2 separate regions of the Homo sapiens genome follow, and region 1 is linked to region 2. The links come from fine-mapping of genetic effects on gene expression. A gene starts in region 2. The other region holds a variant in brackets. All regions are shown on one strand. Distances are from middle to middle. Region 1 overlaps MAP2K6 (mitogen-activated protein kinase kinase 6). Region 2 holds the start of MAP2K6 (mitogen-activated protein kinase kinase 6).

What was found. PIP is the estimated chance that this variant, and not a neighbour inherited with it, causes the effect.
Region 1: its variant is fine-mapped to the expression of MAP2K6 in skeletal muscle (GTEx, PIP above 0.99).

What each region holds. Positions count from the first base shown.
Region 1 is chr17:69,498,195-69,503,573 of GRCh38, forward strand. The region is part of intron 1 of MAP2K6 (mitogen-activated protein kinase kinase 6); the gene reads left to right. Among named protein-coding and RNA genes, the nearest start is that of MAP2K6-AS1, 15 kb to the left of the region's middle. The variant G/A (reference allele first, on the strand shown) is at 3,032.
Region 2 is chr17:69,411,567-69,416,945 of GRCh38, forward strand. MAP2K6 (mitogen-activated protein kinase kinase 6) reads left to right here and starts at 3,131. Exons shown (of 12, transcript NM_002758.4): 1 at 3,131-3,434. The coding sequence starts at 3,419.

The sequences.
Region 1 (5,379 bases), 87 kb after region 2:
AATCAGAAAGAACTGGTGGGTTGTGGGGGATGTGACAAGAGCCTTGGAGGAAAGTGACGTTGGCAACATAAAGTGAGAAATGGTAAAACAAGACAAACAAACAAACAAACAAACACAAAACAACTTTACATAGACATGTGGTAGACAAGGGCTACTTAACTGTGGCTGATTTCTCAGACACTTGTGAAACTTAAAAAAATATATGGATCCTGAAGCCTCACTCTATCAACTTAGCTGGTAACTACTGTCCCCAGTAGCTGAGAGACCTGGACAAAAGGGCATCAGCAGGGGACCCACCTGCATGGGTCCTTTTGGGGCAGTTTCACCCATAGGGATAGGATTGCAAGTGTGGCTTCAGTGACACAACTACAATGTGAGATTTTAAGACTTTTTAGCACTTAGAGACTCTGTATGGCACCCAGCACGCCTGGAAGCCACACACACACACCTGGAAGCCACACACACACACACACACACACACACACACACACGTGCACGCAGAGAGAGAGAGAAGGGACCACTGAGCCAATGTCTTTATTGGGTACAGGGCGTTATCCAGTTTCCTGCAGGGAGCTTTAATTGCTGGGTTTAAAGCAAGCAGGCACTAGTTCTAGGAGGTCACAGCGTGACTGAGAGGTGGTCACCTTACGTTTGTGGGCAAATGTCTGCATGGTCTGTTTAAAGGGAGTGGCAGGAAAGTAGGGAGGCCAGCCTGCTAGGCAGGAGAGATGTCTCTAAGTTTCATGTCTGGCCACTGGTTTGGAGCCAATCTGGTGGAGTGTGGTATTAGACACCGTGTTAAGAGTGACTGAGCCCTGCTTCTGATGTGAGATAGTTTAACTTAGGTTTAAAAATGGATACTGAGGCAATGTAAAATTATAAGCACTCACTACACTCAGTCCCAGAAATCCTGAGTCTATAGACCTGGAGAAGTTCCCATAGTCAGTGGGCACAAAGAGAGGTAGATTCAAGATTGATGAGATGTTTGAAAAATGTAATTCTAGTGTAAATAACACGAAAGAGGGAGAATGGAGCACGGAATTTGAAGAAATAAGATGCCATCCAGGGAACATTCTGCTTAACTCATATTTTAAAAATGTAAGCGTAAACATGGAAGGGACAAAAGGAAGTATTTATTGAGCACCTATATTATGCTACACCCTGCTAGGCTTCTTCACACACACTGTGTCAATCGAGTCTCTTAATGACCTGCGGAGATTGTACATCATCTCCAGTTTGCAGGTGTGGAAACTCAGTTTAAGATAAGAAACTTTCTCAACATTACGTCACTAAGTGGGACAGCTGGGATTTGAAATGATTCTTATTGATGCAGAGGTTTGTGCAATTTCCATTCCATTCTTGGTTGTTCATTTTGTTTGTTTGTTTTTTGAAGAGCTCTGTACAAATGTTCAAAACAGTTGAGAAAAGAATAACAAACATTCAGTCAACAAATATTTATGATGTGCAGGTGCTGGGCAAAATCATTGGCCATCATGGAACTTATATTCTAGTGGAGAAAGGTAGATAAACAAGTAATAAATAAATGCAGAAGTAAATAAATAAATACAAAAATAAAATAATTCTAGATTGTGAGAAAAGGTTTGCGGGAAATGAGTGGAAGATGGTCGTGGAGATCTATTGTAGAGAGAGTGGACATTTTTCAACTAAAATATCAAAGTTTCAGGGAAGCTGCTTTGAGCTCATATTGTGTTGCAGGCTGAGTGTAAGGTGCCAGAATGTGAAAGCAGGAATGTGTGGATAGTAATCCTTAGATTGTGTTCAGGAAGCTCTGGGAAGGTTCTATGAGGGAGGTTTTGAATTTGGAAGGTTGAGTTCTTGTCTGCAAGACAGCTAGAGCCCTCCAGGTAGAAGGAACAGTATGAGCAAAGGTAAGGTCTTAGGAGATTCATTCTGACTCTGAAATCAAACTGACTGCAGGTTTTAAAATGAGCTTTTCAGCTGGGCACAGTGGCTCACACCTGTAATCCCAGTAACAGCACTTTGGGAGGCTAAGGCGGGCGGATAACCTGAGGTCAGAAGTTTGAGATTAGCCTGGTCAACATGGCGAAACCCCATCTCTACTAAAAATACAAAAATTAGGCGGGTGGGGTGGCACGTGCCTGTATTCCCAGTCGCAGCTACTCGGGAGGCTGAGGGCCATGAGAATTGCTTGAACGTGGGAAGCAGAGGTTTCGGTGAGCCTAGATAGGACCACTGCACTCCAGCCTGGGTGACAAAGTGAGACTCTGTCTCAAAAAAAAAAAAAAAAAAAAAAAAAAAGGCCGGCCATGGTGGCTCACGCCTATAATCCCAGCACTTTGGGAGGCTGAGGCAGGTGGATCACGAGGTCAGGAGTTCAAGACCAGCCTGACCAACATGGTGAAACCCCATCTGTACTAAAAAATACAACAATTAGTTGGGCGTGATGGCGGGCACCTGTAATCCCAGCTACTCAGGAGGCTGAGGCAGGAGAATCACACAAAGCCGGGAGGCGGAGGTTGCAGTGAGCTGACATTGTGCCACTGTACTCCAGGCTGGGTGACAGAGCAAGATTCCATCTCAAAAAAAAAAGAAAAAAAAAAAGAGGTTTTCAGCTTTTCTTCTCTAAACTTTCTGTAATTCCAGAGAGATTTGTCTTCAGTGTTTGGAATCTCAGTGGTATATAAGAGCCAGTGGTTTTGGAAGATTGGAGGATGGCAGAGTCCCTGTTCACTTTTACATTGCTGTTGCAAAGCCAGCTTTCTTCCTGCATGCCTCTTCCCCTGCCCTGCTTCGTTCGTTGCTTTGCATATGATGATTGCAATTTAATAACACTGAATGATACTTCACTGCTGGTTTTATTGCCAACTACCCTTGGAACGTAAGCCTAGATGCAAGTAGTAAGGAGAGGGCAGCCAAGGCCTCTAGATTGCCAGTTACTTGGCTGGAAATCCCATTCATATTGGGAAACAGATTTTTAAAATAAATTTGGCACTGGAAACACTGCCATCCTTTTGTGAAGCTGTGTCAATAATCATAAACTCTCATAGTC[G/A]TGCCCCCAACCCTCGGCCAAGCTAACAAATATTTAGGCATCAGCATATCTTCACGATGCCACCTTCTGTTGACCGCGTGGGCTTCTCATGCTGTTTGGGTTGGCAGTGGAACATAATCTTCTGTTTTATGTAATGAGGAACATCAGAGGAGTGCTTTGTGCTTACCCTCTCAGAGTGTGTGCAAGACCTCTCGTGTACCCCATCATTTTCGGTGCAGTCAAAGCTAGCGAACATTTCTGTGGCCTGGTAAATATTTTCTAACTATTGGCAAGGCTTTTTAAATTTTTTTTTCCAGTGCCATTTTGCTCCAGGCCAGGATTATAATGACCCAGCTTTGCTTTGGTTTCAGATGAATTTTGCAAATATATGTGTGTGGTGGGATTACACTATTTTCAGAGAACACAGTCATGCGGGTAACAGGGTCTGATGCAATATAGTGCTGCATATGCCCAATCAGGCCGACGAGGCTTACCCTTTGCAGACTGTGCCAATAAGCAGTCGAGGCTTGTTGCGATCTGCAGAAATCTACAGAATTCTCTGTTTCCGAGAAGGCTTGTTGCTAGCATATGACATCATAGAAAGCCTTTTTTTTTTTCTGACATTTTTTCTGCTTTGCTTTAGAATATCAAAGGCAAAGACTGTTGAACATAGTTGGCCACTTAGCTTTATTATTCATAGTGCTCCCTCCCATGTTTTTTTTTTTTTTTTTTTAACAGTGTTCAATGTTAGCGTCAGGTGTTGGCTGCCTTCCTGGGGGAACAGATTGCTGTGAAGTAAACACAGCTGGAAACTGACCACATATTGTTTTTCTTTCTTTTAAGAAATCAAAGAGGCATTTATAGAAAAGCTGCAGAACATGGTACTGTCCAGATTTATAGATTTATTCCTCCAAGTCTGGTTAATGATTAATGTCACGCCTGGGTGTCCACATAGACCCACTTCCCTTCTCCCTTCCTGAAGCTGCAATTTCCTCGGAACAATGAGCTTGCAGAGGTTTGCTGCAATCCGAACTTGAGGAGGGGGTGGAGTCTGTTCAGTTCTGTTTCTCCTTGCCGAAGTGTGGTCTTTGGAGCTAAGTGAAGAATGACTTCTGTTAGGTTTTCCTCTGCTGGTCTTCCTTGCAGCCTCGAAAACCTCACCAGAGTCGCCTCTGCTGGTCTCTTACTGTGCTGCTCTGTCAGAGATGGGCAAGTAAGCGAACTGCAGAGTGTTGCTGTGTGTGCTTGTGATTTGTATTTTATTTGATGTAAACGTGAAGGCAGAGTATTTTCTAACACTGTAATTCAACTAGGTTTTGTGTCTCCTGGATCTATTTTTTTTTCTTGTTGTTCTGAGGAGCTGATATACTTGGAAATATTAGGTTTAAGATATGCAGATGTCCAACTTATATACATAGTCAAGGGTTTAGAGTCTGGAGACAGGAGGCTGGCAATTTCAACTAGGAGGCAGTAAATTCAGGGTAAGAATGATGTTGATGTGGGGGGCTGTGGGGGTGGCTGGGTGTAACAGTGATCTGGGGAGAGAATCAAAGGCCTTCTCCTCCCACTTGGAAGACTTTACTATTATTTTGGTCTTTTATTCCTTTGGTCTCTGTGCTAAAAACTTTCTCTCTTTTTTACTGTTTCTTTGTATAGATGTTTTGGTGATTTAAGTTATGGTGTAATAATTAATTGCTGTTAAGAATTGCTACTAATTACTTGCTATATTAAAGTTTTCCAAAGGGGTTTTCTCAATAAATAGCTATTTCTCTTTACATCTATCTTGTAAGAACTGAGTTAGAGGTAAAGAAGAGAAAGATGTAGGAATTTAAGAGTAACTTCTGCTTTTGGTTTGCTTAAATGACAACTGGAGACCAGTTTTCATAGGCAAAATATATGTTACTTTAGTTTTTGTTTTCGTTGAGAGAACTGTAGGGTCGCCTTTTGGGATTACCTGAATTATCTGTCACCTGCACTGGAATTTGTATGTAGTTATCTGTATAGTTATCTAAACAAGTTGAATCCGTCATTCATTCCTCACTGAAGAATCTCATCGAAAGTAACATTCCCTGTCTGTTTGGCTGAGGTGCATGGATGGGAATTGTTGGAATTAGGCCATATATCTATTTGGATTCTCATAACTGGGTCCAGCACCTAGCATAGTTCCTGGTACATAGGAAAGCTCTATGCGATGTCAATAACTGACTAATTTAGTAACATCCTTAACAGCTGTTTGAGTTCCAAGAGCAGGAAAGTGAATGGTGAGTTTTGAACCTTATAAAATACATAAGTAAACCCAAATGAGGAGAGAATTGAGAAAGCCTCTTATTCTGAAGGTGGTCCTAAAAGGCTTTCTCTAGGCTGATTAC
Region 2 (5,379 bases):
GTTTGAGACCCCCTGACCAACACGGTGAAACACTGTCTCTATTACAAATGCAAAAATTAGCTGGGTGTTGTGGTGAGCTCCTGTAACATCAGCCATTCGGGAGGCTAAGGCAGGAGAATCGCTTGAACCTGAGGGGTGGAGGTTGCAGGGAGCCGAGATTGCGCCACTGCACTACAGCCTGGGTGACAGAGCGAGGACTCATCTCAAAAAAAAAAAAAAAAAAAAAAAAAAAAAAGATGGGGGATTTAAAACAGAAGCATGGGCCACCTGAAGATGAACACTTGATGTGCATATAAAAGGAGACACCTGCCAGAATTCACTCCTGCCTTCTTACGCCACAATGGGGAGGATTCTCCTCCTAGTACCAATGATACCACGAAGACTGGCAGGAAGAAGAGCACAGGTACCTCCTCTTCCACCACCCACGTATGTGGGAGAGGAAACTTTTGAACACCAAGGCAGGAAGAAGAACTTTTTCTTCTGGGAACCAAGACTTCACAGAGAGGTTGAGTTCCCTGTCATCCCAATTTCCTACTTGAAATTCAGGATACATTTTTCCCAGAAAGAAATATGATACAAAATTTTGCTATTTTTAAACGGATGATTCAGCCAATTTATGGATGAGAGGTGTTTTGTGTATGCATGTGTGCTTGTGTGTGTATATTAGCTGCTGAACATATTGTTGGTGCTATGGGAAAATGAATTGCAGATTGACTTTCAAGCTACAATCCATTTGCCAGCTGTGGACTCCGCACGCCTATGCAGAGAAAGTAAGAGCAGTAATGACAGTGGCAAAATGCACCAGACAAGTTGTGATTAGAACTCTTCCATAAAGAAGGGAGTCTGGGGCTACTTAAGAGCAATGCAGCTGACCACATAAAATGCAAATTGAAGCAAGCTCTAGGTGGCTGTTCAGGCCCTGCCTGGGCTAAGCCAGTTTACAGAAAGCTCCAGCAGCTATCCCAGGGCCTGGCTCCATCAGTGTTTGGGAAAGTGAACTAGATTTTCACACGTGTCTCCTGGTTAAATGAGACTTAGGAAACCATGCTGGTTTGAGGGGGTGCTGAGCTTGTGTGTATACGATAGGAGGGAAGGGACAACATGGATTAGCCTAGAAGGACAATAAAAGAGTTAGAAAGTCCTTGCACCTGTGTTCACAGACCAGCAATGCCTTCCTCTTAGGGGCAGAAGCTAATATGGAGATTAGATTGCCTTCACTAATTGTCAAGAATGTCAGTAAAGGGGACCAACTTAAGTAAATTAATGTTAGTCTCACAACCTATTGCATATTTAAGATTTGATTTGCTGGTTTGCAGCTGAAATAAGACGGCTTCCTTCCCTCTAATGCATCCCTTATGCAGATGGTCCTGGCTTCCAGCATCCTAAATACAATTCCAATAGTTTTCATTAGTAATCATCAAATCTAGCTGAATCTTCTTTCAAAGTGCCTCTTTTTGCCTTTCACTACTGACCTAACCTATCTCTAGCCTCTCCCAGTTCCAACCCACCTTGATTGCTGAGGGCAAATTTACTTTCTTAAAACAATGCTTGGATTAAGTTACGCCCCTTTGCAAGACCCTTTCACCTCCCCGCAAGTACCTGCAGAATAAAGTCCAAACCTCTAGCCCACCTTTTAAGGCCCTGTGGAGTCCTCACCTGTAAATCTCCCCCGCCCTCACCACTCCTGCACACAAGGCAACAAGGTCTCCTTGGCAGCTTCTGAGTAAGGTTGTCCTTATTTCTGCCACAGTGCTTTGTCCACACCTCCTTGAATTCCTCAATTCCTCCCTCTGTCTTAAAAGAACATTTCTGAGTCTGTCTGCTCCATGAAGTATAAGTCCGAGCTCATTTTTGCCCATGCCCTGCTCACTCCTCTCCATTCCTTGCAGTGAATTGTGCTAAGCATCTCTGGCTTCCTTGTGAAAAAGGTGATGCCGTTCTCCATCAGGGTGCTGTGTACCCACTATGTGTGAGCGGTACAGAATGAATGAACATCCCAGGGCCCTAGAAAGGCGCCTGGCACATCCTGGACACTCAACAAGTATCTTTTAATTTTAATGAATAAATTCAAGATATTCGACTGTATTCATTTTCCACCCACTTTCCCCCTAGGCCAGGGACTCTCCTCCCAGGTGAGAAAAAATCATCTAGATACCTTAATTTTGATAAAGTTAGCGTTGATGTATAAAAAGCAGAACTTCCTCTGTAACCCTGTGAGAAATGAGAAGCCTCCAATCTTCTTCCCCACACCTACCCCCTACTGAGTTTCGGGTTCCTTGGAAATAACTGACCTGGATTGTTTCTGACAAAATAAAACTTTGCATCTTCTCCACAGAGCAAAGGTAACCTTACCTCCAGCCAACCCAATCATCCATACATTTTTCTTACTAGAAAAAATGTTTTTAAAAATGGAGGTGTGGCCGGGCGCGGTGGCTCACGCCTGTAATCCCAGCACTTTGGGAGGCCGAGGTGGGCGGATCATAAGGTCAGGAGTTCGAGACCAGCCTGGCTAAATGTTGACACCCCGTCTCTACTAAAAATTAGCCGGGCGTGGTGGCGCATACCTGTAATCCCAGCTACTTGGGAGGCTAAGGCAGGAGAATTGCTTGAACCCGGGAGGCGGAGGTTGCAGTGAGCAGAGATCGCGCCACTGCACTCCAGCCTGGGCGACAGAGCGAGACTCCCTCTCGGGAAAAAAACAACAACAACAACAACAAAAAAACCCCCAAACAAACAAAAAACGGAGGTGTGAGGGTAAAACGTCTACAGGCAAGAACAGCACAACAGGTGCTGAGCTGCAAAATCAACACACTAAACTCCCAAACAGACCTTCTCGACAAGCCAAAAGCTCTTTAGCTAACCTAATATTCTTTAGCTGTTGTTTCAGAGGCTTTTCGAGAACAAAACTGCCGCCCCGTCTTGGCCTTGCCGCTTTTCACCCATCACTCTACTGAGTGTGTGTCTGACTTGTTTATCTGGACGCAATCTTTGTCGCACCCAGTTATCTCGCTCAGCGACCGGGGCGACCACGTTTCCTTAAATCAGAGCCCCGTGGACTCCGCCGGAGAACTACATTACCCAGCGGCCTTCGCGCCCTTCGCAGGAAGGACGTCTGCGCACTAAGATACTCAGTTCCAAGTTTGGAGCTTTTAGCTGCCAGCCCTGGCCCATCATGTAGCTGCAGCACAGCCTTCCCTAACGTTGCAACTGGGGGAAAAATCACTTTCCAGTCTGTTTTGCAAGGTGTGCATTTCCATCTTGATTCCCTGAAAGTCCATCTGCTGCATCGGTCAAGAGAAACTCCACTTGCATGAAGATTGCACGCCTGCAGCTTGCATCTTTGTTGCAAAACTAGCTACAGAAGAGAAGCAAGGCAAAGTCTTTTGTGCTCCCCTCCCCCATCAAAGGAAAGGGGAAAATGTCTCAGTCGAAAGGTAAGAGGCTGTTTGCATTAGTTGCAAAAATGCAAAGGGTTGTGCATGCATTTATGAATGCATGGATGCAATTTTCGCCTGGCGAGTGCATTTTTAAGTTTGAGGTTTTCCACAGCTCAGTTGCATTTCCTGTTTAGTATGTGTCTTTTTTTGCAGACACAGAGAGTTCCTGTAAGGCAGGGCTTGCAGTTCAGCTGTGCATTGACGTTATTTGCATTCTTCTGCTAGGATTACTGAGCTCTTTTTGCCTTTTGCACAGTCAGGAGAGACAGAGCAGGTTGGTAGCGTCTAAATGTGCAAGGCTTTATATAATTGTAAAATTCTTTACTATGCACAGATATTGTAAGTAATTTTGTATGCAACAGGAATAGAAACTTTTAAAAACTCTATAGGTGAAGATGAAAGGTAAAACTTGAGTTAAACTACTAGGAAATTAATGTAATCTTATATTCTTTGGGGGAAATAGACCGTTGCGGTGCCAGTATTTAGCTAAATTTCCATTGATATCGCCTTGAACATTAGGTAACTTTTGATTTTTAAAGGAAGTAAAGGTGAAGGGTGAATAACAGCATATCACAAAAAAGCAGACGAGTCTTGCTCTTCTGAGATTTTGCACTTTACACCAATTGCTTATTGGCTCGCAAAATTTAGAAGCAGCAGTGAAGACCTAATGTTTTATGTCTGCCCATTTGGGGGATGCTTTGCATCTTGGGGGAAAATATTGGGGGTAAAACTGTACTTTTAAGCATTACAGTAGTGTGAAGGGACTGCACTGTTTCATTGACAAGCATAATGAAATATTTTAAGTGTGTAACTGCGTGTATTTAGTCAGCTGTAATAGGTTGGAAGTTCACGTTATGGTTGTTTTCTTTATGTTCTTTTATTTTCTTTTCTTAATTTTTGTTTTTAAACACAGTTGTATTTTGCAGGCTTAATGTCACCCTGGGAAGGGGATTTAAAAAATTCCTGATATGACATCAAAGAGCAGACTAGGTGCTGTCAGGTGCCCCTGGGACCCCAAGTCACTTGTTTCAGAACAATTGTTTCTTTACCATAGAGAAAGCATATGCCATATGAGAAGTATGGGATGATGAAGAGAGGTGTTAGATACTATTGAATTAGGCTACCCGGGGCACTCTTTGAGTAAGACATGGTGAAATTAAAGGGTCTAACAAGCTTTTTGCTACTTTTTTGGGAGGGAGTGTGGGGAGTTGTTGCACCGCTTTTTAATTCTACCTGATGGGAGTCATATATCTCAGCAGCCCAAGAAGGAAGTAGTAATCTCAAGCATTCAAAGTAGCACTCTGCTTTTCTTTGAGTATTAGGGGAGAATGGAAATCTGAAAAGTTAAGAGTGCTGAAGAACCTAGGAATTGACATATCAGGTGGAGATGTTCCTCAAGTGGGGAAAACCTAAAAATCTCCTTATTGAGTAGAGAAATAATAGTTCAGAAGAGGCAGTCCATGCTTTGATGTATTAAAGAGATGGCATTTAGTTACTTTGTATTTGGTAAACATTCGCTCATTCATTCAATTCAGTTTAATATATGTGTAATATATTGTGATATGCATGTATATACATATGTATGTGTGTATATATATGCATGTATATGTATGTATTGTGTGTGTATGTGTGCACATGATTTAGGGACACACAAAAATATTTAAAATGAAGTTTTTCCTTCGGGTTGGTGAAAACAAGAATGTAAGGAAATCATTATAATACAAGATAATAGGACAGGTATTGAAGAGAAATGGTGCTATTGGAGTTTAAAAATGGAAGTGATTTATCTATTTGGGGGATAGTCAGGAAGGTTTATGAAGAGGGTGGTGTTTACTGTGATCTTATCTTTGGACTTTAGGGTCTAAACTAAATCAGGCTCCTTTTTGCATATTTTTGGGCTCACTATGAACGTGGCTCCCTCTTAGTAGAGCCAGTTTTTGAG